Homo sapiens: one gene and its partners. The protein of the gene in region 1 interacts with the protein of each later gene in a pairwise test. Each region holds a gene or a part of one and is shown on either strand. Other genes may lie near its edges. The genes, in order: NRBF2, C1orf216, PPARA and THRB.

Region 1 (7,995 bases):
ATATTAGCTGGGCGTGACAGTGTGCACCTGTAATCCCAGCTACTCAGGAGGCTGAGGCAGGAGAATTGCTTAAACCCGGGAGGCAGAGGTTGCAGTGAGCCAACATGGCACTACTGCACTCCAGCCTGGGTGAAAGAGCGAGACGCTGTCTCAGAAAAAAAAAAAAAAAAACCACCAACAAACCTCTCACTAGGGACTCTCCACTAGACCATACCCAAATAGGGCAAATGCTTAGCTATAGCCAATCAAGTAATTACTTCCACATTCAAGGAATAAAAGTTCACTGCCTCTGCTGCTGTGGGCAGCTCTCTGAAATTTTGAGTGCTGCCTGATTCACGAGTCATTCTTTGCTCCAGTAAACTCTTCTACATTTAATTCGTCTAAAGTTTCCCTATTAACAGATGTTGGCTGGGCACAGTGGCTCACACCTGTAATCCCAGCACTTTGGGAAGCTGAAGAGGGTGGATCACCTGAGGTCAGAAGTTTGAAACCAGTCTGGCCAACATGGTGAAACCCTGTCTCTACTAAAAATACAAAAATTAGCTGGGCAAGGTGGCTCGGGAAGCTGAGGCAGGAGAATCCCTTGAACCTGGGAAGTGGCGATTGCAGTGAGCTGAGATCGCACCACTGCACTGCAACCTGGGCGACAGAGCAAGACTCCATCTCAAAAACAAACAAACAAACAAAAACAGATGTGAAATCTTTCATTTGTATGTGCCAGATATTTTGTATTACTCTTTCCAGATCCGGTCTCTACTTCTTACTACCCTGCTCCCTGCCCTTGGAGGCTGATTTTTATGAATTACATCAATGGGCTCCCTTGCCTTCTGGCTTTTGATTGGGTTTGGACAATGGAAGTCAGGGGAAGAGGAAATAAGGTGATTTCCCTGGATCCTCCCTGCAAGGTCACCTCAGGATAGTGTCCTTGATTGAAGGTCAGTGCTTCTTCAAACTATATTCTACATTTTTCTCCTCATTTCAGATTTCCCTCTTATTCATTTCTCTTTCTTTTTTTTTTTTTTTTTTTTTTTTTTGAGACAGAGTCTTGCTCTATCTCCCAGGATGGAGTGCAGTGGTGCGGCCTCAGCTCACTGCAACCTCTGCCTCCCAGGTTCAAGTTATTGTCGTGCCTCAACCTCCAGAGTAGCTGGGACTATAGGCATGTGCCACCATGCCTGGCTAATTTTTGTATTTTGGATAGAGATGAGGTTTCGCCATGTTGGCCAGGCTGGGCTTGAACTCCTGGCCTCAAGTGATCCGCCCACCTCTGCCTCCACCTCCCAAAAGTGCTGAGATTACAGGTGTGAGACACTGTACCCAGCCCCTTCTATTTCTTTCTTTATAGCCTAGGAGTTATTGCTTTTCTCATGTAAATACCTAAACTCTGGCCACACCTTTGTAAAACAGTCCGTTTATTAAACCCTTCTGGGATTATTTTGAGTATGTCATTGATTTGCTTTAGATACAATGCCTCTGGTAGTCTCAATAATGGTCCGAAAGATACCCAGGTCCTAATCTGTGGAAGCTGAGAATGTTACCTCATATGGCAAAGGGACTTTGTAGGTATGATTAAGTTAACCTTGAGATAGGAAGACTATCTTTAACTATTTTGTGGACCAAATGTATTCACAGGGTCCTTACTAGAGGGAGGCAGAAGGATTTTAAGAGGAAATGACATGACAAAAGCAGCAAGAGCTTTGAAGATGCAGTGCTGCTGGCTTTGAAGATGGAAGAAGGGGCTGTGAGTCAAAGGAATGCAAAGAATGTAGCTCCAGAGGCTGGAAAAGAAGGGGGCAAGGCCTTGCTGTATACCTTTGTTTTGGCGCTATGAAATTATTTTGGTCTTGGCCGGGCATGGTGGCTCACGCCTGTAATCACAGCACTTTGGGAGGCCGAGGAGGGTGATTCACGAGGTCAGGAGATCGAGACCATCCTGGCTAACACGGTGAAACCCCGTCTCTACTAAAAATACAAAAAATTAGCCAGGCGAGGTGGCAGGCGCCTGTAGTCCCAGCTATGTGGGAGGCTGAGGCAGGAGAATGGCGTGAACCCCGGGGGTGGAGCCTGCAGTGAGCCAAGATCGAGCCACTGCACTCCAGCCTGGGTGAAAGAGCGAGACTCCGTCTCAAAAAAAAAAAAAAATTATTTTGGTCTTCTAGCCTCCAGAACTGCTAGCCTCCAAATTTCTGTTGTTTTAATCCACTAAATGGGTAGTAACTTCTTACAGCAGTCATAGGAAATTAATACAGTGCCCAAGATAGAACTTTTCATTTTCCATACAAATTAGCTCCTTCCTATTGTTACCAGGGGGTCTTTGTTCTTAGAGCTCCCAAGATGGTGGCAGGCCACTTCCAAGATGGCGGCAAGCCTTTTGTTCTCTGACCTGGGGTTCTTGGCCTCACGGATTCCAAGGAATGGAACCTTGGGCCATGCAGTGAGTGTTATAGCTCTATTAGAAGCCGTGGGTCACAGAAGAGAACCGTGGAACCCAGCAACTAGTGTTCAGCTCGATTAGGACAAACCCTGGGCACTTAGCCTTGCAGGAACAATGGCGAGCCTCTAGCCCGATTGGGAGCAGCAATGGGCGCCTCGCTGGATCAGGAGCACAGTGGACACCCTGATGGATCCAGAGGGGTGGAAGTCAGCGGCGGGTCTGTGATGGCAGCAAACAGCGGTGGTGGACGGTGAGTGAAAGCTCAGCTCAAGCTGTAACAAACATGGACCAGAAGAGTGTGCAGTTGCAAGATTTAATAGAGTGAAAACAGAGCTCCCATACAATGGGAGGGGACCCAAAGGGGGTTGCCACTCCCTGCTCGAATGCCTGGGTTTATATCCTGATCATTGTCCCTCCCCCTGTGCTCTCAGGCGATATATGATTTGACTATTTCTTTACCTTCTGCTTCTAGCCTAATTTGTATTTTAGTGAGCCCTCTTTACTACCTGATTAGTCGGGTGTGAACTGAGTTACAAGCCCTGTGTTTAAATGTGGGTGTGGTCACCTTCCCCAGCTAGGTTTAGGAATTCTTAGTTGGCCTAGGAAATCCAGCTAGTCCTGTCTCTCACTATCTTGTCCACTTGGTTGTTTACTTTTTTATTTTTTTATTTTTAGAGACAGAGTCTCTCTGTGTCACCCAGGCTGGAATGCAGTGGTGTGATTGGTCTCAGCTCACTGCAACCTCTGCCTTCCAGGTTCAAGCAATTCTCCTGCCTCAGTCTCCCCAGTAGCTGGGATTACAGGCACGCGCCACCACACTTGGCTACGTTTTAGTGCTTTTAGTAGAGATGAAGTTTCACCACGTTGGCCAGACCAGTCTCAAACTCCTGGCCTCAAGTGATCTGCTCTCCTTGACCTCCCAAAGAGCTGGGATTACAGGGGTGAGCCAGTGTGCTAGGCCACTTGGTTGTTTAAATACGAGATTTGATTCTTCCATTTTCTGTATGCTTTACTGCCATTCCATCACTAACTCCTCTCAACCTGATGCCCAAAAATATATCTTGAATATATCTACTTCTCTTCCAAGGTTTCCGGCACATGGTAGAAACATGATAACTATGTAATGAGTGGATGCATGACCCAATCTTCCCTACTTCCATTCCAGTCTGAGCGCCCATAATTAGTCAATCAACTAGCTTGTCTTGGTTCTTTTTCCTTAGGCCTTCCACAATCTATTCTTCACATTACAGGGAAATTAATCTTTTCAAAACTGTAAATTAAAGCAGATTATTCTCTAGCTTAATATCCTTTACTTATTTCCCAATGCACTTTGAGTAAAATTCAAATGTTTCATTGTGCACTGCAAGGACACCTATGTTTTGGAAGTTTCCTATCTCTCTGGTATCTTCTTTTGCATCTCTCTGAAATGCTGCAGCTCCCGCCACCCGACCTCCCCGCCTTTAGAGTTGAGGCATAAGACATTTCCTTTGTCGAGAAGGGTCTTTGTTTAACTGGCATTTTAAGGTTTAATCTTAAAGATTACGCCCTTAGCCAGGTGCGGTAGCTCATGCCTATAATCCCATCAGTTTGTGAGGTCCAGGAGGGCGGATCATTGAGCTCACTTGAGCTCAGCAGTTCAAGATCAGCATAGGCAACATGGCGAAACCCCATCTCTACAAAAAATACAAAAATTAACCTGGCCTGAGCACTTGTAGTTCCTAGCTACTTAAGAGACTGAGGTGTGAGGATCGCCTGGGGCAGGGGGCGGGCAGAGGGAGGTTGCAGTGAGTGGAGATTGCGTCAGCAAGACACTTTCTCAAAAAAAATCACGCCCCCCATGAAAGGCTTTCCTTTACCACCCAACTCCACCTTGGTTACTCTATCACAGCTCCCTATGTGTTCCCTTTCCAGCATAAATCACAACTATTTGTCAGTGAATTCCATGACAGAACGAACCTAGCTTTTGTTTGGCACATAATTGTTAAATGAATGCAGTATTATATTTGGCTAGACCAAAATTGTTTCCCTATCAGTTTGTGAGCAACTTGAGGGCAGAGCCCTAAATCATTCGAGTGTGCTGACCTCTAGGGGGGTTAGTCCAGTGCATGGTCTAGAATTGCTCAAATCGGCCTTTTGAAAAAATGAATCATGTACAATGATAAAGGTGTGGACAGGACCACAAGTAACGGTGTAACGATTAGCAGATTTAAGGAAAAGTCAGTCTAAAAGGAAACGTGAGAAGCTAATTGCAGAAGACAGCCATTTCAAGTCTTCAACAGCAAGGCTGTACCTCCTCACGTGACTTCAGTGTAGACTTTAAGAACCTAAACTAACGCTTCTCGCGAGAGGAAAGATTGACCGCTCGCAAGCGTACATCAGCTGGTGCCCCGCCTTCCCTGGGCCCCACCCACTGCCTGTCCTCATTCCCACCTTGAACCAGCCTTTTGCGCGTGTGACGTCATGGCGCCGTGCGTGGCCTCGGCGGTGGCGCAGGGGGCGGGCCCGCGGCGCGGCGCCGGAGGAGGAAGTGGTGAGGTTGTTGCTCCTTCAGCGCCTATCGCTGGCTCTTGGGGCGCAGAGAGGGGCCGCAGTCTCCGCGGCTGCGTCGAGCTCCCTTGCAGTCCCCTCCATGTTCCCCGGCGCCACTACTCCCCTTCCTAAGGCCGCCGCTTACCCCGGGGTCTATGGAAGTAATGGAAGGACCCCTCAACCTGGTGAGTGTCCCACAGAATATAGCGTTCGTCTTGGGTGCCTTTGCCTCAGGAGCCCGGCCCCGTCCCCGGCGCGTCGGCTAACCCTTTAGGCTGGGAGGTTGGTTTGGCAGGAGTGGTCGCAGAGGCTGTGAGGGGCTGCTAGGCAGGCCCTGGCCCAACTGCGGCTCCAGGCTAGCCACTTCAGACTTTGCCCTCCTGGGGGATCCCCGGGAAGTCCTGGCGCCCCCTGTCGCGGGGCCCCGGGCGAGGGGATGCCACCACCTGGGGCTGCCACCTCCTCTCTGGCTGGGGGAAGTCCTCTTAGCGCCACGTAGCCACCTCCCTACAGCCTGGAGAGGCACTGAAGCCGGCCAAGGCAGAAATGGTGTGATACTGGTTTTAAGTTCTAGCAGCAGGGTCTGAGTCTGAGTCGCCCCGCTTTGGAGAGGTGGAGGAGTGAATAGCCTCCTCACCCTCCACTTCCCCCTCCTCACCCTTCACTTCCCCCTCCTCACCCTCCACTTCCCCCTCCTCACCCTCCACTTCCCCCTCATTTCTCACATACATTCACATGCATAAACTGAGTCTACCGTCTTCCAAATATATTAGAGACAGCTGGGAAAAAGACAGCCGTTCCTGTATTTAGCTCAGATTCATCAATTTAGGCATCATGAAAGTGTAATAGGTGTTTGCTGTTCTCAGGAAAATGGCTGATAGCCTGTTTACTTGTGTTTTAAGGCGTTTCAGGTGTTGCAATTAAAAAACAACACAACAGAACCCCACTAACAACGGGAAGCATGAGTTCTTTTCAGACTGGCCATTGCATCTTTTAGTTTTCCAGAGAGGTTACCCATTTTGGATGTAAAAGTCAGATTACTTAAGGTTGCACACAGGAAGAACTTTTGAGTCACAGGTTTGCAATTCATTTGCGATGGTGGAATTGAAAGAAAGCTCTATAGAGGATTCTTTTCTCACATTAGAACTCTGAGTCCTAGAAGAGCAGTAGAGTCAGGTGGTTTAAGACTCTAGGTTTTGAAGCTATGCTGCTTGGATTTGAATTCTAACCTCGTCACTTGATATCTGTGTTACCTTGGGCAAACTACTTGGCTTCACTCGGCTTCAGGTTTTTTGGGAGGATTAAAGGAGTAAATAGGTGTAAAGCACTTAGAACTGTACTAAGTACATAGTACAGTGTAAGAGTTAGCGATTATAACCAGACCATAAGCCCTTAATTTAAAATCTATTTGTAGAATAAAGGTTTGGACTTGAGCTTTAAAAGCCTAAGATTCTCGGACCAAATCACTGGTGCCAGGTTAACTGTTGTGAGGCGCCCCTCCCTTTTAAGTTGGGTCTTGCCCCAGGTGGTAGGTATTTACACTTAAGACGAATTGGACTACATTTGCGAGTTTTTTTTAACCAGGGAACTGGCCAGGCGCCGGGGCTCACGCCTGTAATCCCAGCACTTTGGGAGGCCGAGGCGGGCGAATCACTTGAGCTTAGAAGTTCGAGACCAGCCTGGGCAACATGGCGAAACCCGGTCTCTACAAAAAATACAAAAATAGCCTGGCGTGGTGGCGCCCGCCTGTGGTCCCAGCTACTCGGGAGGCTGAGGTGGCAGGATCGCTTGAGCCCAGGAGGTGGAGGTTGCAGTGGGCCGAGATTGTGCCACTGCACTCCAACCTGGGCGACAGAGCGAGACTCTGACTCAAATAACCAGGGAACTGTCTTGCACTTTTCTTGTTTTTAAGGCGACATATAGTTGGCAATGAAATACAGTGGATGGCTCAATACTGAAACTTCACAGGAGTATTACTAGAAATAATCAGCTGTTTACGAAGTGCTTCAGAGTTCAGGTGTCCTTGCCAAATGAGCATTGGTTCAGTTCTAGTTAGCTTCACATTATTTGGCTGCAGAATAACCCCCGCCAACTGCCCCACGAATGTGTGATGTTTTAAAAGGAGACTAGAACTGGGTGACAGTTGCAGATAGAACTGCAGAATCACTACCAGTTCAGGAAAAATTAGTTAAATGGTGGCAATACCATTTAAATTCTCCTCCATAAAACGGAGCGAGTTTCGACAGAGTCTTTTTAAGCAGGCTAGCGTAACTCCGTATTTCAGCCATAAAATTTATGTAGGCAAGTATCAGAAATTTGGCATCTTGAATTCTTTTTTTTTTTTTTTTTTGAGATGGAGTCTCTCTCTGTCACCAGACTAGAGTGCAGTGGCGCGATCTCAGCTCACTGCAACCTCCGACTCCCTGGTTTAAGCGATTCTTCTGCCTCAGCCTTCTGAGTAGCTGGGATTTCAGGCACGCGCCGCCACGCCCAGCTAATTTTTGTATTTTTAGTAGAGACGGGGTTTCACCATGTTGGCCAGGATGGTCTCGATCTCCTGACCTCGTGATCCCCCCGCCTGGCCTCCCAAAGTGCTGGGATTACAGGCGTGAGCCAGCGTGCCCGGCGGACACCTTGAATTCTTAAACCATTTGAGTCTTGAAAGATCTAATTTCCAGCATAGTTGTTTATTGGAAGGTAACAGTAGAACAGACGTTGACGGTTACTTGAATGAGTACCAATTACAGGCCTCTGGCACTCAGAATTGTCACTCACAGTTTTATAAGATGAGGTTTTTGAAAATTCAGACTTTTTTTTTTTTTTTTTTTCTTTTTTGAGACGGAGTCTCGCTTTGTCACCCAGGCTAGAGTGCAGTGGTGCGATCTGGGCTCACTGCAGCCTCCACCTCCCGGGTTCAAGCAGTTCTCTGCCTCAGCCTCCTGAGTAGCTGGGATTACAGGCATGCACCACCCTGCCCGGCTATGAAAATTCTGACATTCTTTTATGTCAGTGAACACCTAACTTAGTATCTA
Region 2 (7,885 bases), on another chromosome or scaffold:
ATCTGTCCGCTTCGGCCTCCCAAAGTGCTGGAATTACAGGCATGAGCCAACACACCATGACTTCTGTTTCCCTTTCTAAACAAGGAGCTCCCCAAGACCACGACCAGTTCTGATTCTGCTCTGAATTCCCAACACAGTACCTGGCACAAAGTAAGCACTCTGTAACTGTATGATACATGTAAATGAATGGGTGGGAAGGGACAAGGTCTTTGAAGCTGAAACACCTTGATCTTACCCACCCCTTTCTTCCTGAGAATACTGATATTGAGAAATTATCCACCTATGAATAACCCTTAGGCCTGTCCTATTTCCTGGATGAGAAATTCCTCTCATCTTCTCTGGTCTCCTTGCCTGACACCCCAGGCCCTGGGACCTGGATCTGGCTACTCACTGCTAGCCTCTCTTGGCTCTGACATCTGTTTGCCAAGAGGCTTACCCGCTGTCCATCATTGGGTCTTGATGGCATGGCCTTTTGCAAAGCCCTGTTCAGGCTGATACTGGCCATCTCTGGAGGTTTCTGTGTCCTTGCCACTTAAGTTCCTGGCATATATGTGGGTAGGTGAACCCAGCCACAGATACCCTTTCACTTGGGGGTGAATTATTCTCTGGTGTCCTCACTGGAAAAGCCTCTGGCAAATGAATAACAGGCATCTCTATAGCTGCTTTTTTGTCTTCCTGTGGACATGGACATCCCTGCATTTGGAGCTTTTTTTTCTTCAGGTTTTGAGCTCTGAAAATTATGGAGTGACCAGGACTGCTGTGTGAGCACTGACTGTATTAATTATACAGTGCTAGAATATTCCATACAACACTGCCCTTGATTAACAAAACTGGCTACAGGCTGGGTGTGGTGGTTCACGCCTGTAATCCCAACACTTTGGGAGGCCGAGGTGGGCAGATCACTTGAGGCCAGGAATTTGAGACCAGCCTGGGCAACATAGTGAAACCCTGTCTCTATTAGAAATACAAAAATTAGCCGGTGCAGTGGCACACGCCTGTAGTCTCAGCTACTCAGGAGGCTGAGGCATGAGAATCGCTTGATCCTGGGAGGCGGACGTTGCAATGAATGGAGATTGCACCACTGTACTCCAGCCTGGGCAACAGAGTAAGACTCCGTCTCAGGGAAAAAAAAAAGAAAGAGAGAGACTACAATCTGATTTCCTTTAAATGAATTCACTTGACTTAGCAGGTATTGTATTATTTAGGAATAACTAGCTTTAGGCCAGGTGTGGTGGCTCACGCCTGAAATCCTAGCACTTTGGGAGGCCAAGGCAGGCAGATCACCTGATGTCAGGAGTTTGAGACCAGCCTGGTCAACATGGTGAAATCCTGCCTCTACTAAAAATACAAACATTCACCAGGTGGCGGGCACCTGTAGTCCCAGCTACTCAGGAGGTTGAGGCAGGAGAATTGCTTGAACCCAGGACGTGGAGGTTGTAGTGAGCCAAGACTATGCCACTGCACTCTAGCCTGGGTGACAGAGAGAGACTCCATCTCAAAAAAAAAAAAAAAAAAAGGAATAACTAGCTTTTTAGAACAATGGAATTGATGACTCAGCTATTCCAGGCTGGGGTGCTGCCCTGCAGAGCACGATATAGGCTTTATTTATTTTATTTTAATTTTTTTTTTTTGAGACAGGGTCTTACTCTATCGCCCAGGCTGGAGTGCAGTGGCACGATCTTGGCTCACTGCAATCTCTGCCTCTTGGGTTCAAGCGATTCTCCTGCTTCAGCCTCCTGAATAGCTGGGATTACAGACGCGCACCACCATGCCTGTCTAATTTTTGTATTTTTAGTAGAAACGGGGTTTCATCATGTTGGCCAAGCTTGTCTCGAATTCCCAGCCTCAAGTGATCCGCCTGCCTCGGCCTCCCAAAGTGCTGGGATTACAGGTGTGAGCCACCACACCAGGCCCAATATAGGCTTTAAATCAATGTATATAATGCTTTGTCCTTTGTGGCCAGAATGCATAACAAGAAGAGGTAGCGGTGGTTGTGGCACCTTATATGATTTACCTAAGGACTAAGAGTTTTCTTCCTGTCTCTGAGATTCTGGGTATTGCAGGTCAGAAGGTGATAGCATCGGCCAGGCACAGTGGCTCACACCTGTAATCCCAGCACTTTGGGAGGTCAAGGCGGGCAGATCATTTGAGGTCAGGAATTTGAAATCAGCCTGACCAACATGGTGAAACCCTGTCTCTACTAAAAATACAAAAATTAGCCGGGTGTGGTGGCACGCGCCTGTAACCCCAGCTACTCGGGAGGCTGAGGCAGGAGAATGACTTGAACCTGGGAGGCGGAGGTTGCAGTGAGCTGAGATCGCGCCACTGCACTCCAGCCTGGGTGACAGTGAAACTCTGTCTTGGGAAAAAAACAAAACAAAACATGGTGATAGCATCATGGGAGGAATGTTTCTTCTAACCAAGAAACACAAAGATGATTCCCTGGGATTTCGGCTCCTGGTAGCACTAGAGGAATAGGAGAAGGGGGTGGTCTCAGTGTAGACTGGACTGATCATGGCTACCAAGGAGAAAGGGAGTTACTGTTACCTAATAAGTGTTGAGAGGTGCGTGAATGGAACCCAGAGACCCTGGGGTCACCACCTTGTGCTATTGTAGTAATCAGCATTCTTTCAATTGTCGGTGAAAGAAATTCCACTCAAGTTAGGCTTGGCAAAATAAGGCATACAAAACTATAAGTTTAGATGCAGGAAACAGGGTCTGCAACATTATCAGAACTATCTCTCATCTCTGTTTCTTCCCTGCCTCGTCTTCCTTTAATTTCGTTTCAGAAGATCCCAGAGAAGGACTCTGACTGGCTCACCTGGAGTGGAGCTCCTATCCCTGGATTCTTCAGGCTTTCATTTGACCCACATGGTTAAGCTGGGAGAGACAGAGTCCAAAGAGAGGCGGAGAAGGGCTATTCTGGGCAGAACAAACAATTGATGACTTTATGGCTCTGTGGTCTGGGCAGAACTGCATAACCCTAGATCACCAAAGCTGAGAGCCTTTAGGAGTGAGGATTTGGGCCAGGCATGGTGGCTCACGCCTGTAATCCCAGCACTTTGGGAGGCCGAGGTGGGTGGATCACAAGGTCAGGAGATCAAGACCAACCTGACCAACATGGTGAAACCCCATCTCTACTAAAAATACAAAAATTAGCTGACGTGATGCATGCACCTGTAATCCCAGCTACTCAGGAGGCTGAGGCAGGAGAATCGCTTGAACCCGGGAGGTGGAGGTTGCGGTGAGCCGAGATTGCGCCACTGCACTCCAGCCTAGGCGACAGAGCGAGACTCCATCTCAAAAAAAAAAAAAAAAAAAAAAAAAGTGAGGATTTGGGTCACCCCAGGCTGAAGGCCAGGGGAACCTGAAGTGGATAAGGGAAGGGAGAAGACTTAGGCCACAGGATCTGATGTAGAAATGGGGCTGACGTCTCCACCTGTATTTTCTTAGCTGGAGGAGTGTGCAAAGTTTGAATTACTTCTGCCTTCTCCTTCTTATTTCCTTTTCCCTTTTAAAATAGTCATCATAATCATAAAAATTTCTTTTCCATTTTCCCTGTTTTTGCATATAGGATTTCTTGGTGTGATTTAATTTGCCAATTAGTCTCTAGGTTGCAGAATGGTGACTTGGAATCAAATTGAAACTGGAAGAGGGCACCTCATATATTAGGGTCAGCAATTACTGAACTCTGTTCTCTTTTATTCCAAACAGGGCCCCCAACTTCACATTTCCCCAGGGTGCAAAAGAGTGAGGGGGGTCAAGCTTCAGTAGAGTGGAGCTCTGAGAAGAATCCACTGGAGTTTGGAACCCAAGACCCTTTTTTATCACGCTGTTCCTCCTCACCTGGGCAAAAGCACTGGTACCCACTTCACAGGCATCATGGGTGGGCTCTGTGTCCTGCGGAGAGCCCCCGTCCCGGGTACAGGACATCAGCCCTGAGCCCTGTCCCAGGCTTGGATCTTCTTTCTCTCTCTCTCTTTTTTTTTTTTTTTTTTTTTTTTTTTTTGAGACGGAGTCCCACTCTGTTGCCCAGACTGGAGTGCAGTGGTGCAGTCTTGGCTCACTGCAACCTCCACCTCCCAGGTTCAAGCGATTCTCCTGCCTCAGCCTCCCAAGTAGCTGGGATTACAGGCGCCCGCCACCAAGCCCGGCTAATTTTTGTATTTTTAGTAGAGATGGGGTTTCACCATGTTGGCCAGGCTGGTCTCAAACTCCTGACCTCAGGTTATCTGCCCGCCTCGGCCTCCCAAAGTGCTGGGGTTACAGGCGTGAGCCACCGCACCCGGCCTCAGTGACTTTAGTCAAGTAAGCACAAAAAGGAATATATAATTCCAAATTGTGATAAATGCTATGAAGAAAAGGAATGTGCTCTGACATAAAGGGGGGAACGAACGTGATCTAGGGAGTCAGAGATCTCTCCGAGAAGAGATCTGAAATAGGAGTAAGTCGAGAGGGGGAAGAGAATGCTAGACCGAGGGAACAGTGCGTGCCAAAGCCGCGTGGCGGAAAGGGGCGTGTGGGAGGGTAACTGCGGAGAGGGAGGGTAGAGGACGAAGCCGGAGAGGCAGACGAAGGGCAGGACGCACAGAGCCCCGCGGCTACCGCCTTAGGGGTTGTCCCGGCGGTGGGGAAGCCATTGAGGAGTTTAACGCCGGAAGGTGGTGACTAATCAGATTTCACTTGAAAATGGCACGGTGTCTGCAGCGAGGCTAACTGATGGGAAGGGCCCAGCGAATGCCAATAGGAGAGAGCACCGGACCTGGAAGGCCTGGGTCAACGCGGCCCCGCGCGGGGGCGAAGCGGTTCCGGCGCAGGGGCCTGGCGCGGGGCTCCGCGGAAAACCGAACCGGCCCACGTGGGACCGGTCGCTCCGCCCTGCTGCGCAGACGCCGCCTGACTCCGCAGTCCGGGACTGGGGCTGGGCGCGCTGCCCGGGAGCCCCGCACCCACGCCTGGACCGCGGAGACGCCCAGGCCGAGGAACCCCCAGCCCAGGGACTAGACACCACCAGGGCCGGGCGGAGCCAGAGCCAGACGCGCCGGAGCGGGCGCCTCTACGCCGTGAGTCCGAGTCTGGGGCCCGAGGCGGGGTGGGGCTTGGGGCTCAGCCGCGGGAAGCGGGGAGTCACAGTGGCCTCCTTCGAGGAGACTAGGGAAGGATGGTCTCTGTCTCCTGGGGTGGTCTCCCACTCCCGCAAGGCCAGAAAAGGAGGCTGCCTCCTGTTTGGGCGGAGACCTAGTCCTGGCGTGTCGGGGTTCTCATTTTACTATCTCTGAGAACCCTGTGATCCCTAGCGCCACCCCCACCCCATCCCAGCTTCCTTCACGGCCCCATCCAAGTATAGGAAAAATAAAAAATTGGGGCGAGGGGAGATCTCTAGGCACCTTCCCACAAGCCTTGCTTAGAGGGCGATTAGAAACGAACTGTTCCTACACCCTTCTCCCCAGGACTTCTCTGCCCATTGCTGGGGGTGGGGAGGGTCCATGCCACCTATGGAGCGCCTTCCAGTGCCGGCTCCACTTACAATACCCTTCCTCTTCATGCTCTTCAATTGTTCTAATCCCAGTGCTGTTTGGTCAGTAGAATCCCTTTGTCAGTTCAAATCCTAATTTTGGTTAGAAGCAGGTTATGGAGGAGAGAAGAGTGGTGTGGTATGCCCTCCCTCCAGGGCCTCAGAATGGAGCAAGCTAGGGACGGGGACCGCAAGATAGTGGCTGTGTTCCAGAGGCATTGGGAGGGAAGGGGGCAGGCTCAGAAGAAAAGCTTGTCACTGGGGAAGGCGGGGCTCCCTGGCTGGGGTAGGAAAGGGAACCAAACCCAGCTCTTCCAGAACCCAGCTCTTCCAGCCCTGGGGAGTCAAGAGTGGATTCCTGAGCATGGAAATTCACTGCAGTCTCTTCTCCCATTCACTCACTTAGCAAGTACCTGTATGCACAGACAGCCTGGTTCAGGGCTCTATGCTGGCTGACTCTGGGGAATATGATGGAGGATATATACAGGAGGTCCAAGCCAGATTACAAACTGCTATTACAAGATCATTACCACAAACCAAAAATGCCAGTTGAATAGACATTCACTGATCGTCGACCATGTATGCCAGGGACGGATGCAAAGTTGGATAAGACAGTGTATACCCAGCGCAGTGGGGACCCAGAGGAAGGCATAACTAACCGTGCTTGTTTATGTAATATTGATTGGGGCAGTATCAAGACGGCTTCAGAGACATGGGGACATGGAAACATGGGGATATTACAGCTAATTTTGAAGTACAAAAAGGAATTTGCTGGGTGGAGAAGGGAGGAGCTTTGAGGGGAGGGGAGAGGAAGGATATTGTAGGCCAAAGGAATACTGTAAGAAAAACAATGGTGTGTTTTGAGATCTCTGGGCAGTTTGCTATGATGGGAGGGGCAGAGTGGCAAGAGGCAGGTATGGAGGGGTGAGCAGGGGCCAGATCAAACAGGGTGTTGTAGGCCAGGTAGAGGTTTAGCAGGAATTCAGGGAGGGCATTAGGAGTGGTGACAAGTGAAATTTACATTTTTAACTGGAGGCAGAGAGATCAGTGAAAAGGCCGAGGCAATAATCCAGGTCAGAAATGGCCTGGAAGAGGAAGAATGGTCAGAATGTGGTTATTAATGAGATGGGAGAAGGAAGGATAGTGAGGACCCCAGGATGCTCTCAGCTTTCTGGATGGAGTACAGAGCCATCTTGCTGAGGATACTGAAGGAGAGCTTGTTTGGTTATGTAGAATTTTGGCGGGGGGCGGTGGTGGAGGGGGATGATGTCACTCTGTCACCCAGGCTGGAGTGCAGTGGCGCAATCTCGGCTCACTGAAACCTCTGCCTCCTGGGTTCAAGTGATTCCCCTGCCTCAGCCTCCCAAATAGCTGGGATTACAGGTGCCTGTCACCATGCCTGGCTAATTTTTGTATTTTTAGTAGAGATGGGGTTTCACCATGTTGGCCAGTCTAGTCTCGAACTCCTGACCTCAGGTGATCTGCCTGCCTCGGCCTCCCAAAGTGCTGGGATTACAGGTATGAGCCACCATGCCTGGACTGGTTATGTAGAATTTGAGGAGACTATGGTTGGTTGCAGGGTTGGATAGCAGTTGGATCTGGGCTGAAGACAGATCTGAGAGTCACCAGCATATGATGGTCTTTGAAGCTACAGCAGAGAATGAGGTCCTCTGGAGAGAAATGCACAAAATCAGAAGACAGCCTGGCTCTGAGGACGGAGGAAAAACCCTTTGCAGGAGACTGAGAATGAACAGGTAGACAGGGAGGACGAAAACCACGAAGGGAAGTGTTACCAGAGTCAAGAGAAAGGGCTTGACAGGGAGTGGCCAGGCTCTTGCTTGCAGCCTTGTCCCTGCAGCTAAGTTGCCCTGACTTCAGGCACCCCACCCTGTCCTACTGTGACTCGGTCTCCTGCTTTCCCTTTACAGGCTAGATGTTCGCCATCCAGCCAGGGCTAGCTGAGGGGGGCCAATTCCTGGGGGACCCACCTCCTGGATTATGTCAGCCCGAGCTCCAACCAGACAGCAACTCCAACTTCATGGCAAGTGCCAAGGATGCTAACGAGAATTGGCATGGGATGCCAGGCAGAGTGGAACCTATCCTGAGGAGGAGCTCCTCTGAGTCACCCTCTGACAACCAAGCCTTCCAGGCCCCTGGATCCCCTGAGGAAGGGGTGCGCAGCCCCCCAGAGGGGGCAGAGATTCCCGGGGCTGAGCCTGAGAAGATGGGTGGTGCTGGCACAGTCTGCTCCCCTCTGGAGGACAACGGCTATGCCAGCAGTTCCCTGAGCATTGACAGCCGTAGCAGCAGTCCTGAGCCTGCCTGTGGGACCCCGCGAGGCCCTGGCCCTCCCGATCCCCTTCTGCCCTC
Region 3 (7,021 bases), on another chromosome or scaffold:
TGCCAGGGAAATTGGCCATCAGAGACACAGAGTATCTTGCTTAGGGTCCCACAGCCCCCAGCAGCAGGGACTGGAACCAGAGACTGGCTGCTCCTGCTCCCCAGCAGTTCCTTCCTGCACATCAGGGGCTTCTCCACCTGATTCAAGCGACAGGAACCCCCTGTGCATCTTCATCCTCCTGCTGGCTCAGCCTGCCCTAAACAGATGTGACCTGGGCCAGGAGTGCATGAAGGCAGGCCCTGTTGTCCTGCATGCTGCCAGCTGGACTGGTGGCCCTTCCGTGTTTGTCAGCGTGGTGATGAGGAGAGCTCCTGTAGCAGCGTCCCTTTAGGGTTGCACAGACGTGCTCAAGTCTGGCGCCTTATGTACGTGATATGTGGGAGATCATCATCTGAATGTTTGGTTTGAATCAGAAATCCCTTCTCACGGTGCACGCTGCAGGTGTTCACTAACTTGGAAAATGCCACCGCCTTTCTGGCACAATGTACCATCTTGGAACACCAGCATTCTGCCCTGAGCCAGGCCTGGCCTCAGAGGCCTGGGCCACAGGGAGAACCTCACAGCCAGGACACTGTGGCACTCTGCTGTCTAGAAGCCTGTCTCCCCACCCTTCCCATTCTAACCCCATGCGTTCCTCAGCCTCCCCACTGTGCAAGCCTAGGTAAGGACATTATGAAGACGTCAGCCTGCCTCTCACATTCCCCTGCACACTGCTGTCCCTCTCCCGCGGGCCAAGCAGACCCACTGTGGCAAAAATATAGAAGAATGACTTAAAAGCAAAGAGAAAAAAGAACCCAAAGCAAAAATGAACTCCTTCGCATGTTTTCTAACCATATACCTTTGAAAAAGCTCCTTATAAAGTGGCCTTTTCCTTAGGGCCATGATTAATTATTCATTTAGTTTTGTTTTTTATGGACTATTTAGTAACATTGTTTCTTGCTGGGTAGAGTTTAAGATGCTTTTACAAAGCAAGAAAATTGTTTACAAACAGCTGGCTTCCTTTTATTATAATTTTTGTCTTTGAGGGAGTTAATATACTCTTACAAAAATTCTTAGAAAGTCTTTAGTCACAAATATGGAAATGTCACAATGCTGGGGATAGTTACATTCATATACATTGTAACAAGGCTGAGTAACTCTTTGGAAAACTATAATTGTGTTTTCCCAAGTCAGATGAGGGCATTTTGAAATGACTTCGAATGCTGCCTCATTTTATTGTTTTTCACATTAAATGTAACGACATTTAAAGTTCTGTATTTGTCCTAATCATTCCAGACTTCTTAGAAGAACTATTTCTTTCTTTTTTTTTTTTTTTTTTTTTTTTTTTTTGAGATGGAGTCTCACTCTGTCGCGCAGGCTGGAGTGCAGTGGCACAATCTCAGCTCACTGCAACCTCCGCCTCCTGGGTTCAAGTGATTGTCCTACCTCAGCCTCCTGAGTAGCTGGGACTACAGACTTACATCACCATGCCCGGCTAATTTTTGTATTTTTAGTAGAGACAGGGTTGCACCATGTTGGCTAGGCTGGTCTCGAACTCCTGACCTCAGGTGATCCACCCGCCTCAGCCTCCTAAAGTGCTGGGATTACAGGCATGATCACCATGCCTGGCCTGGAATAACTTTTCTCTAAATTTTGTTCATTTAAAAAGAAACAATAAATGAGCAACAAAAAAGGTGAGTAAAGCAAGTGCGCTGGTTTCTCAGTGGCCCAGGTCTTTAAATCCACTGTGTATTACCCTCACAGGGCTTCTTTCGGCGAACGATTCGACTCAAGCTGGTGTATGACAAGTGCGACCGCAGCTGCAAGATCCAGAAAAAGAACAGAAACAAATGCCAGTATTGTCGATTTCACAAGTGCCTTTCTGTCGGGATGTCACACAACGGTAGGTAAGGTGGCCCTGCACATTTTCCCAGTTCGTTCCTCAGTTCCCCTTCCTTGCTCCAAGGGAACAGATCAAGCTATGGATGAATGTGCTTCAACATTTCACACCCAAGTCATTTTGTAATCAGAGTGGCCTAAGAAAATAAAAGTCGCCCAGGCGCGGTGGTTCACGCCTGTAATCCCAGCACTTTGGGAGGCTGAGGTGGGTGGATCACCTCAGGTCAGGAGTTTGAGACCAGCCTGGCCAATATGGTGAAACCCCGTCTCTACTAAGAATGCAAAAATTAGCTGGGTGTGGTGGCACATGCCTGTAGTCCCAGCTACTCGGGAGGCTGAGGCAGAAGAATCGCTTGAACCCGGGAGGCGGAGGTTGCAGTGAGCTGAGATTGCGCCACTGCACTCCAGCCTGGGCGACAGAGGGAGATTCCGTCTCACAAAAAAAAAAAAAAGAAAAAGAAAGAAAGAAAGAAAATAAAAGTCTCCCAGGTGCGGTGGTTCACACCTGTAATCCCAGCACTTTGGAGGCCGAGGCGGGTGGATCACTTGAGGTCAGGAGTTTGAGACCAGCCTGGCGAACATGGCAAAACCCCGTCTCTAATAAAAATACAAAAATTAGCTGGGCATGGTAGTGCACACCTGTAATCCCAGCTACTTGGGAGGATGAGACAGGAGAATAGCTTGAACCCGGGAGGCGGAGGTTGCAGTGAGCTGAGATCGCACCACTGCACTCCAGCCTGGGCGACAGAGTGCGACTCCGTCTCAAAAAAAAAGAAAAAAAAAGAAAAAGTCTCAAATAGCTGAGATTCAGTGGTGCATTGGACTCGCTGTTAGAAACTTCAGTGGTAAGACTTTGATACAGAATCGAAAAACCAAGTGGAAGGCACCAAAATGACAGAATGTTCACCTCGTCCATAGGAAGGGTGTACCACCTCAAACATCTCACCACGTTATGAATTTCCTTCTAGCCAATCATTTAATAGTTTCAGAACATGCTAATTGTGATGTGAATGTAAGTCGTTCATAAGAGTTGCATGTCTACCTTCTGGAAAAAGAAGCAGTTATTATATAAACTCATCCCGAAGCCCCGTTCACCTCCTTCACTCAAAGGTTGATGATGCACCTGATAGTGGTGTGCACCCTACTAATGAGACGAACGATGGTGTCACCTTCAGCCTGCACCTGTTAACGATGGTGTCACCTTCAGCCTGCACCTGTTTAAACATCTACAGTGTATGGAGTTTGAGTTTTTCATCTCTCCATAGTGGAAAGCCGAATAGTAATGAAGGATGGGTCTGAACTGCCTGTGAATTTTCATTCCTGGTTTAAAGTCCTGGGGGAGCCCCTCGTCCAGCCCTGTCCGCGCAGTCATGACCTCACTGCTCATGCCTGTGTTTCCCCCTCCAAACCCTAGCGATTCGTTTTGGACGAATGCCAAGATCTGAGAAAGCAAAACTGAAAGCAGAAATTCTTACCTGTGAACATGACATAGAAGATTCTGAAACTGCAGATCTCAAATCTCTGGCCAAGAGAATCTACGAGGCCTACTTGAAGAACTTCAACATGAACAAGGTCAAAGCCCGGGTCATCCTCTCAGGAAAGGCCAGTAACAATCCAGTAGGTGTTTGCGGCTGTTCTGGGTTCTCTTGGCAACATGGAACCAGTGTCGTAGAGGACGATTAAGGACACATGTGTTGAATGTTGAGAAAATTATATTTATCCCACAGTTAAGCAAAGGACAGCGAAGATGGAAACAGTTCATTCTGAGACTCTGAGCTGTAGCTTAACAACAACTCCTTTCTTCTTGCTTGGAGCCACCTCAAAGCTCTTAGCAACTAAGTTATTATACTGGCTATGTAATTAATACACTTAAAAAAAACCTTAATAGCTTACCAAGTACTAAGATGATTTCTTAGGAGCATTTTTTCTTAAATAGAGATAGGTTCTTGCTCTGTTGCCCAGGCTGGAATGCAGTGGTGCAATCATAGTTCACTGCAGCCTTGAACTCCTGGGCTCAAGCAATCCTCCTGCCTCAGCCTCCCAAGGAGCTGGGACTACAGGTGTGCACCACCACACCTGGCTATGTTTGATGTTGTTGTTGTTTTGTTTTGTTTTTGTTTTTTGGTAGAGATGAGATGTTTCCCAGGCTGGTCTCAAACTCCTGGCCTCAAGTGATCTTCCCACCTCGGCCTCCCAAAGCACTGGCATTACAGGTGTGAGTCATGGCACCCAGCATTAACTGGATTTAAAAAAAAAAAAACTGACCAGGCAAGATGGGTCATGCCTGTAATCCTGGCACTCTGGGGAGGCCAAGGTGGGCAGATTGCTTGAGTCCAGGAGTTTGATACCAGCCTGGCCAACATGGAGAAACCCCAACTCTACTAAAGATACAAAAATTAGCTGAGCAGGGTGGCACACACCTGTAATTCCAGCTACTTGGGTGGCTTAGGCATGAGAATTGCTTCAACCCGGGAGGCAGAGGTTACAGCAAGCTGAGATCATGCCACTGCACTCCAGCCTGGGTGACAGATCGAGACCCTATCTCAAAAAAAAAATAGAATAATAAAATAAATCCCTACTTTGAGGTGTATTAGTCTGCTATAAAGAAATCCCTGAGACCTGGTAATTTATAAAGAAAAGAGGTTTAATTGGCTCGTGGCCCACAAGGCTGTACAGGAAGCTTCTGCTTCTGGGGAGGCCTCAGGGAATTTGACTCATAGCAGAAGGTGAAGTGGGAGTAGGCGTCTTGCATGGCAGGAGCAAAAACAAGAGACACACACTTTTCACCCATCAGATCTTGTGAGAACGCTATCACTAGAGTAGCACCAAGAGGATGGTGCTAAACCATTCATGAAGGATCACCCCCATGATCCAGTCCCTCCCGCCAGGCCTCACCTCCACCACTGGGGATTACAGTTCACCATGAGATTTGGGTGGGGACACAGAGCCAAACCATATCATAAGGCTAGAAAAGGAAACCACTTACTTCCCACTCAAAATGTGCTCTTGGTCCTTTCTCCTAAAACTACTCCCTCCCTCTCAGACAAACATGCCTACATTCTTTTTCCGCCTTCAGTGAAAAGACAGTGACATCTTGGGGCTTAGAAAGGGCCACTTGTAAGCCAGGCGTGGTGGCTCACGCCTGTCATCCCAGCACTTTGGGAGGCCAAGACAGGCGGATCACGAGGTCAGGAGATCAAGACCATCCTGGCTAACATGGTGAAACACCATCTCCACTAAAAATACAAAAAATTAGCCGGGCGTGGTGGCGGGCGCCTGTAGTCTCAGCTACTTGGGAAGCTGAGGCAGGAGAATGGCGTGAACCCAGGAGGCAGAGCTTGCAGTGAGCCGAGATCGTGCCACTGCACTTCCAGCCTGGGCGACAAAGCCAGCTGTGTCTGGGCGCGGTGGCTCATGTCTGTAATCCCAGCACTTTGGGAGGCTGAGGTGGGTGGATCACTTGAGGTCAGGAGTTTGAGACCACCCTGGCCAACATGGTGAAACCCCATCTCTATTAAAAATACAAAAAATTAGCTGGGCATGGTAGCGGTTGCCTGTAATCCCAGCTACTTGGGAGGCTGAGGCAGGAGAATTGCTTGAACCTGGGAGCTGGAGGTTGCAGTGAGCTGAGATCGCACCACTGCACTCCAGCTTGGGCAACAGAGTGAGACTCTGTCTCAAAAAAAAAAAGAAAGGAAAAGAAAGGACCACTTGTTATAGAAAGCCTGTCTTTTAAGGTAGCTCTGGACCTTTTCAGAGGCAGCCAAATTGCCCCTCATGGTTCGTCCCCCACATCCCCGCCTGCCTGGCCTAAGTCCTCCTTCCCCCTCCCCAACAGTTAAATAAGTCTTTGTCTCCATTACAAAACAAATCTCAGAGCTACCTTCAAAGAAGAGCCAGCCCTCAGTTGGTGAATGAAGATACTTTGACATTTTCCTATGAGCATGGTGAAACAGGTTTAATTTGTATTAAATAGCTTGAAGCAATCCTTATTGGGAATTACAAGGTGGAATTTTAGTCACAGGAAAATAAAGCATTTCACAAGCTACTTACTTTCATGAACAAACCAAACCTCTTCTTTACTGAGTCCTTTAATTCTTCAGTGAATTCTCCAATTAAATAGGCCGAGACATTTTAGAAGTTTCCAGCAGACACCCACACTAGGCAGCTCCAGAGGCTTGTCCCAATTAGAACTTTCCTGGATTACGAGAGTGAAAGAAAAGGTAACTTTTAGCTTCGAGTCTCTATCCTGGATATGATTAGTACAGCCCAAAATTGGGATGGCTAAAACTTTTGTTTGCCAGCTTATATTTCTCCCTTGGATTTCAGAATTGAAAGCAGGCTGGGCACAGTGGCTCACACTGTAATCCCAGCACTTTGGGAGGCTGAGGCGGGAGGATCACTTGAGGCAATCCAAGAGTTTGAGACCAGGCAACACAAGGAGACCTCGTCTCTACAAAAAATGATTTTTTAAAAAACTAGCTGGGCATGGTGGCATGTGCCTGTGGTCCCAGGTACTTGGGAAGCTGAGATGGGAGGATGGCTTGAGCCCAGGAGTTCAAAACCAACCTGGGCAACATGGCAAGACCACATCTCTACAAAAAATAAAAACATTATCCAGGCATGGTGGCACATGCCTATAGTCCCCGCGACTTGGGAGGTTGAGGAGGATGCCTTGAGGCCAGGAGTTCAAGGCTGCAGCGAGCCACGATCGCGCCACTGCACTCCAGCCTAGGCGACAAAGCGAGACTCTCTAAAAAAAATTCGAAGCAGAGTTAAGTTGTCTTTCTTCCTAACAACCTGCCCCCACCATGGGGTGCGAATGGGACTCCTGGAGTCCTCCTGCACCTCCCCTTGGAGACCACCAAGCTCTAGGAACCCCATCACCCTCAGCTGAGGGTCACATGCAGCAACTAGCAGGCGGGAATCTGTTTGCATTTTGGCCTTAAAGAAATAAATAATAGGCCAGGCGCGGTGGCTCATGCCTGTAATCCCAGCACTTTGGGAGGCTGAGGCAGGTGGATCACCTGAGGTCAGGAGTTGGAGACCAGCCTGACCAATATGGTGAAACCCCGTCTCTACTAAAAATACAAAAATTAGCTAGGCATGGTCGTGGGCACCTGTAATCCCAACTACCCAGGAG
Region 4 (7,021 bases), on another chromosome or scaffold:
TTGATCCCTGGAAGACATTGACCTTCAACTCCCTGAATTTCAGCAGAATCTTTATGAGTTCCAGAAGCATTGCCAGTGCTAAGAGTGAAATTCCAGGGACTAGACTTCACTGGGTGATGGCAGTGTCTTCTCACTCAGCAGGTCCTGGCAGTGCCTCTGGCAATGGCAGCCCTAAGTGGACCAACCAGTGCATGGTGGTACAATTTGGGCTGCAAAAGTGGTGGTTGGTGAGGGGGCAAAATGTAATGGTCAGGATCCAACACAAGATAGAAATAAATAGGTCTTGGTGATAGCTTTGAAAATAACCTGATGGTTATCATATGTTATTAGTTAAGTCAGCCAGCCTCTTTTTGCCCTCTTTTGCCGCTTCATAAAAGTATTCTGAACCAAATGATGGTGGGAAATATTGCATTATTTGAGTTTTCAAGTGACCAGAGCATAATATCAAAGGAGTCATCTTCAAATTAGTTATTCATGGAAACTCTTGCCAATTGAGAGCAAAAGGAAATTATAATTGAAGATTATGGTGATTTGTTTTTGTGTCTAGAGTATTGACTTTCATAAGTGTGCTGAGTAAATGCATAGTAAAAATTTCACAAAATCAGACTGTTAAAAATGGGAGGGGAAGAAAGATCAAAATCTTGTAGAGGAGGGAAGATAATTAAACTACAATCCTAAGTGCTTACTGCTTTAGAGTATTTAATTTGGCTCTGAGCTTCTTAGTAGTAGCCAAGTTAACAGAAAAAAAGGGGGTCTGGAGGTGGCATGCATTAAACTTGTAAGGATGACACATGTAGAGTGCCTGCCATGGTGCTTGCCAACTAGTATATACTCGTATGAAATATCAAATTATATCATGGATAATACTTGAACTTCAATTCTACATAAAGTGAAGTGAGGTTCTTTATATGATCTTGTCTTGTTACCAACTCTGGAATGGAAAAAAATTGCAGAAGACATAATAATGAAAAGTAACCCAGTATGTTTATTGTTGGGGGCCTGAGCTACTATGGCCTATCAGTGGAGATTCTGGTGATGAATCCCAATGCAGAAATAAAGCTCAGGAAACCTAGAGGAATGAGTGGTTACCACACTCTGTAAGCTAATTTTCCCAAATATCTAGTGTGTCAGCCAACTTTTGATTAGAGCAATTTGAGAGGACAGGACAACGAGGTACTTGAAAATGACCCTATGGCCATAAACACCCCTGAATATGTGGCCCCTGATGCTTTGGGCTTTAGTCTATATAGCTCTTATCACCCTGCAGGGCAGTTTGTTTCCATTTCTGTTCCCACCTCTAAGTTGTGATGAGGCACGATGTGTGGGTTTATTCATCTTTGACTCCCCATAGCCTAGCAAAGAGCTTGGTACATGGGCACAGGTGAAACACTGTTGGAAGAATGAATGGAAGGGTAGAAAAGGCAGTGCTTCTCTTTCCCTTCTGGGTTGGTATTAAGTGTCATATTTGGACTTGGATTTGTCCAGAGTGAACGTTTGCTGCCTGCATTGCATCATATGTCCAGATCACAGCTGTCTGTTTTGCTTGAAGGGCTTGTTCTAGTGTCAAAGCTGGTTGAGCAATGGATGGCAAGTTAACTCCTTGTTTTATTTAAAGTCATTCTGATTCTTTGATTTGATTCCTCATTCAGTCTACAAATATTTATGTATCTACTATGTACCTGGCTCTGCTAGCCATTTTTCAGTTCAGCATGCAGCCCAGTGACCTATGAGACAACATATTAATACAAAAGGATTCTGAAATTGTCTCCATTGTGATGAGATGAGTATACCTGTTGGAGTCTCTCATATGGCCCCTAAAAATAGTTATTTTATATCTGAGGAGGTGATTGTTTGTGATTTCTATAGCCCATGTATATTAATGTAAATTCCAGTGAGATTCACTCAAGAATCTCTTGTATCCAAGTAGTAGGGGAGTTGAATATATTTAGACCGGTGAGCTTCTGATTTAAAATGTTCATTCTCCAATTTAAGTTCCCAAACTTGTTAGTCAATTTTGGCATTTAAACAAGTGGGGGGGAGTATCCAAATCACTGAGTCACAAGTAATATATTTCCATATCTTCCTCTCAGGAACCTGGCCAACTGACAGCTAGAATAGTGATCTATGCTCAATGCTAATGTTGTTTGGTCCCTACTGTCCTAATTTCAAAGGACTTTGAAGTCTTTATATACTGTCAGCTCTTGTGCAGTGCTATTTTTATTGAGTTGAGAAACTGAGTTCTGCTGTGAACTTCAGGATCTTTTCCAAATAGCAAATCAGGGGAGTCTGGAATTAGGACCTAGGAACCTTGACTGTCCTGAGAACCATATTGTAGCTTTTCCATCATGACAGTCAGTCCTAACAATCTGATATACTCCCTGGAAAGTGTTTCTGATAGATGTAGATGTGCTTGATAACAGGGCTCATCTCCCTTGCTCAGACACATTAAATTTGCACAGAAGGCAGATCTACCTGTAGCAACCCAGAATACTTGCATTTGAGGCTTTTGCAAGAAGATAATCTGTGATAATCTTGTACTGTCTGCTGGTCAGTGCTTACCAGAAATTAAATGATATTGGTATAGTGGTTTAAATCTTTTTTTTTTCTTATTTTTTTTTTGCGACAGAGTCTTGCTCTGTTGCCAGGCTGGAGTACAGTGGTGCAACCTCGGCTCACTGCAACCTCCACCTCCTAGGTTCAAGGGATTCTTGTGCCTTAGCCGTAATTACAGGCACATGCCACCACACCCAGCTAATTTTTGTAATTTTAGTAGGGACAGGGTTTCACCATGTTGGCCAGGATGGTCTCGATCTCCTGACCTCGTGATCTGCCCACCTCAGCCTCCCAAAGTTCTGGGATTACAGGCATGAACCACCACTGAAATCATTCAGTTGATTTTATTGATTGACCAACATCCATCGATATGTTTAAAATTATTCTAAGAAGCAATATTTTTTATTTAAAAAATCTTTTATGGCAAAATAATTTAAAGGAACTTAACGAAAACCCTCTGTGATATCATCTTACCACTTTATGTGCTAAAAGCAAACAGTTGTTTGCTATTTGTCAGACAGTGCCTTCTGTCTATTAAAGCTATTTTTCCAGTTACTACTCATTCATTTAAGGCAGTGAAGGATCTTGAAGTATATTCTTTTAGCAGTTAAGATATATTGAATTGTATTGAATAGCTTATTTTATTCTAGTTATTTGAAAATTACTGAACAATGGACAATGTGCAAATCATTGACATCTGTCTCAGATCTGCTGAGACAATCGTGATTTAGAGATTAAAAAAAAAAAAAGAAGGCAAATTCATGGTCCAACTCATCACAGTGAAGAAACTTGTGGCTTACATATCTCAACTTACGTTTGTCTTGCTGATCTGCATGTTTTATCCAATTTTTATTTTTCCTAATCCTATTTTAACAAATACTATCTATAGTTTATTTCATATCATATGCACACATGCACAAACACCTCAATACATACATGTCTCTGTGTTCTAAGAGTGGACTGCAGACGAGGCATACACAATTAGGAAAGGATTGGTCTGGACTGAATTGCTCATTCAACTTCCTACTTCCCAAAGAGGGTCTTCAGGGAGTCATGGCTTCTCTTCTGTGATCAAGAATTTAGGCATTTATAAGAAAGTCATGAGTGACAAGTTTATTAAAACAAAAGTGTGGACAAAGGAATGTAGACTGAAAGCAGGCATATCTTCTTTATTAGGGAATATACTTACTTGACTCCTGGAGGCTCAGGAATGTTTGTGATGAGGAATGTTGACAAGATAGTCATGGTGTTAGTAGCATAATATATGATCCTGACATTCAGGAACCTGTTGAGTATTGTAACTCTTGTGACATGTTGTTCCTTGGTTCTCAAGATGGTTCAGATGTACTTCTTCCCTTTGCCATTTGTTTCTCTTGGGATTCTGTTTTTTCTGATTTCATCAATGTCTACACAAAGCAGGTGCTCAGAAAATAATGATTGATGATAGCAATCATAATGTTTCTTGGGCTTGGTCATCTTTTTGCACATTTCTGTCTTATAGTCATAAATGTCTTAACAACTGGCATGTCCATACTTGCAGAATCTGTCTCTGTGACAAGTGTGTGTCATGTTCTCACATACAGTGGAAAAGGCACTGCTTGTCTCTGGCTTCTGCTGTGATTCCCATGCTCAGCTTTTAAATCACAGTGAGAAATGCTACAGTCACCCTGATGTCCCAAGCCACAAACCCTGTCATTGTTTTCAGTCCCTTCTACTTGCTCCTGAATATGTTGACAGATCCTCTTCTTATATTATTACTTTTTGCTTCTTTTACTGCTGTATTTGTTTATTTTACTCTAGGCTCAATTATGTTTGGGAAATCTTGAGTTTAACAACTTGTAAAAGTTTCCAGAGCCTATTTTTATACTAGCATGCATTATAAATGTCCAAGAAAGGGGAGAGCAGGTAGCAAAATTCATTTGATCACCATTTTATTTGTGTGTGTGTGTGTGTGTGTGTGTGCTTGTGTGTCTAAAACCTTAAGTGGCAAAAGTTCAGCACAATAGGTTGTGAGGAACAGTTCACTATATCACACTTTTTAAAAATCAGGCTCATATGTTTTAACCTTTTAATACAGTTCATAAAAAGTGACAAATGACCAGTATCTAGCACCACAACAGAACCTTTTTGCTTTTTCACACACACACACACACAAACCCCTAGCAACTTGTATACAACACTGGCTAATGCTGCCTGTTGTTGAAGTGTTTTGCAAGAATGCAAAAGTCCTGCTAAATTTCTGTCCCTTTGAAAACATTATAATCATAATCTTTCCTTGACTTTCTTTCTGCTGTTTAGGTGTATTAATTTATATAAGCTGGAGAATGGTTTATTTCTGCTGTATTTCTGTTTACTTTTAAAATTTTACCTAGGCTTCACTGCAATTTCTGCTATACTTCTAACATCTGGAGATCTAGAATAAAGTACCTATATCTGAATTGTAGCTGCAACAGGGAATAGAATAAGGTTGTTTAGTCTTGTGTTATTTTTCTTTAAAAAAAAAGGAACCAAGGGAACCTTACACAGAAAATATTTTTTGAAACAAGTTAAGTTATGACCTATGTAGATGATAAACCTATACATTTGTCCTGTAATGTAGCAGTTATAAGGGATTTGAAAAGCATCTCATCTCCTTGAGGACTTGTGAGAAAAAGATCCTAGGCATCTGGCTTATTAATCTATCTCCCACTCTATGGGTTCATAAACATAAGGTATTGCTAAAGTGAAGCCATGCACTAGAATGTGGTGCACATGCATTCATGTATCATTGATTAAGAATATGTGTTTCAATTTATCTTTATTGAAGTTGCCACAAAAATCAAGCCTTATAATAAGTAATTTTTTTCTTCTGGAGTCTGTCCGTTGGTCACAAATGCATGGGACATCTGCCAAGTGCCAGACACGATGGTAAGTGCCAAGACACCATGGTAGAGCATTTAAAAATTCTTGTCGTATGGATGAGATGCTCGGAATCTTCTGGGGCAATCTACAGGAGGTGATTTAGTGTAGAGTAGTGTTTCTCAGCAGAGGTACTATTTGAGTTTTGAGCCTGGTAATTCCTCTACGCTATGGCATTTGCGGCCAGATAATCCTTTGCTGTGGAGGGCTGTCGTATATATTACAGGATGTTTAGCAGCATTGCTGGCTTCTACCCACTAGATGCCAATAGCTCCCCCAACCCTCCAGTTGTGACCATCAAAAATGTCTCCAGATATTATCAGGTGTCTACTGGGAGGCAAAACTGCTCCTATTGAGAACAGCTGGTGTAGACGTTTGGAACTGGGGCCGTGGAGTGGGAAATGTGTGGATTTGTATGCTGGTTTCACCTGGCTTCATTGCATGTGTTCAGTTTCCTCATCTATCATATGTGGAGATTAAATGAAATAATATAGTGCTTGAGTCACAGTCAAGTATTTCTAAATATTAGCTATTTATAGTAGTGGTAGCATTAATACTTTAGCAGACAATTAAAATATTTGTAAGTCCAATGACATAGTTAAGTACAATGTACATTGTGGGAACCCATAGGGGTGGGAGGGTTCTAGGCAGAAATAAATATGATATGCCTATGAAGTGAAAGTAAAAGTATGAAGCATTTGGGAAATTGTAAGGAGCCCAGCCTGACTCATGTGCAAAGGACTATAAATGAGGCCATTGGAGCAGGCAGGAGCCAGATGGCGAGGACCTTCCTGGGCACAATAAGGAAGATTGACTTTGTCTTGATAGCTTGAAGAGACTTAAGAATGTTCAGCAAATCAGATTTTTATTTTAAAAGAGTTCTTTGGGATAGGTCTTGAGTGAGAGACTGGAGGTGATGAGCCCAGTTAGAGACTCTTAGAATAGTCCACTGAGAGATGATGCCTGCTGGAGCTGAGGCAGTTATACATTGCTGTGATGTCTTTGGGAACAGATTTCACTTTCTCCGAGATGTGGCAAAATTTTTCTAATTTAATTCCAATAATGAATATTTTTAGCAAGCTAGCTCTACATTTGGGGGAATTTCAAGTTTAATTTGAAAGCAGATTACATGATAGATTCTCTTTAAAATGTTTTCAAGTGAAGCTTAATTTAAAGACCATCTCACAGCCTATTCATAGTTGAATATTACTTCAAGGGTTTCTCTGCCATTGTATGTACATGCCTATAGCTCCTCTGTCTGACAGGAACGTGTTTCTATATGATTACATTGAAATAGCATTGACATTGTCGTGTTGAGTTTCATTATTTAGTGTGAAGCATTTCAGTATTTAATGTTAAGTGATTTTCTAACTGATGGGGATTTTATTTCTTTAATGATCCAGATTAGAAATGGATGAAGATAATGAATGAATGAATGAATGCAGGAATGGGTGGCATTATGGAAATATCACCTAATTAAGAATAAAAATATTCTGGACAAGTCTCTTGGCTGATCTGAGCTTTAATTTTTAGTCATAAAATGATACTTGTAGGTATATTAGATAATTCC

What was found.
Region 2: the proteins of NRBF2 (region 1) and C1orf216 interact in binary tests that used the Homo sapiens proteins (3 or more experiments, as listed by UniProt).
Region 3: the proteins of NRBF2 (region 1) and PPARA interact in a two-hybrid assay, tested with the Homo sapiens proteins (one study listed by BioGRID).
Region 4: the proteins of NRBF2 (region 1) and THRB interact in a two-hybrid assay, tested with the Homo sapiens proteins (one study listed by BioGRID).

What each region holds. Positions count from the first base shown.
Region 1 is NC_000010.11:63,128,353-63,136,347, forward strand, and holds the start of NRBF2 (nuclear receptor-binding factor 2), read left to right. Parts: upstream 1-4,975; 5' UTR 4,976-5,063; coding exon of another isoform or gene 5,064-5,118; coding exon 5,119-5,148; intron 5,149-7,995. UniProt on the Homo sapiens protein: May modulate transcriptional activation by target nuclear receptors. Can act as transcriptional activator (in vitro). Involved in starvation-induced autophagy probably by its association with PI3K complex I (PI3KC3-C1).
Region 2 is NC_000001.11:35,715,885-35,723,769, reverse strand, and holds the start of C1orf216 (UPF0500 protein C1orf216), read left to right. Parts: upstream 1-4,885; 5' UTR 4,886-5,063; intron 5,064-6,858; exon of another isoform or gene 6,859-7,269; intron 7,270-7,443; 5' UTR 7,444-7,448; coding exon 7,449-7,885.
Region 3 is NC_000022.11:46,216,520-46,223,540, forward strand, and holds part of PPARA (peroxisome proliferator-activated receptor alpha), read left to right. Parts: intron 1-1,743; coding exon 1,744-1,882; coding exon of another isoform or gene 1,883-1,886; intron 1,887-3,292; coding exon 3,293-3,495; intron 3,496-7,021. UniProt on the Homo sapiens protein: Ligand-activated transcription factor. Key regulator of lipid metabolism. Activated by the endogenous ligand 1-palmitoyl-2-oleoyl-sn-glycerol-3-phosphocholine (16:0/18:1-GPC). Activated by oleylethanolamide, a naturally occurring lipid that regulates satiety.
Region 4 is NC_000003.12:24,484,839-24,491,859, reverse strand, and holds part of THRB (thyroid hormone receptor beta), read left to right. Parts: intron 1-7,021.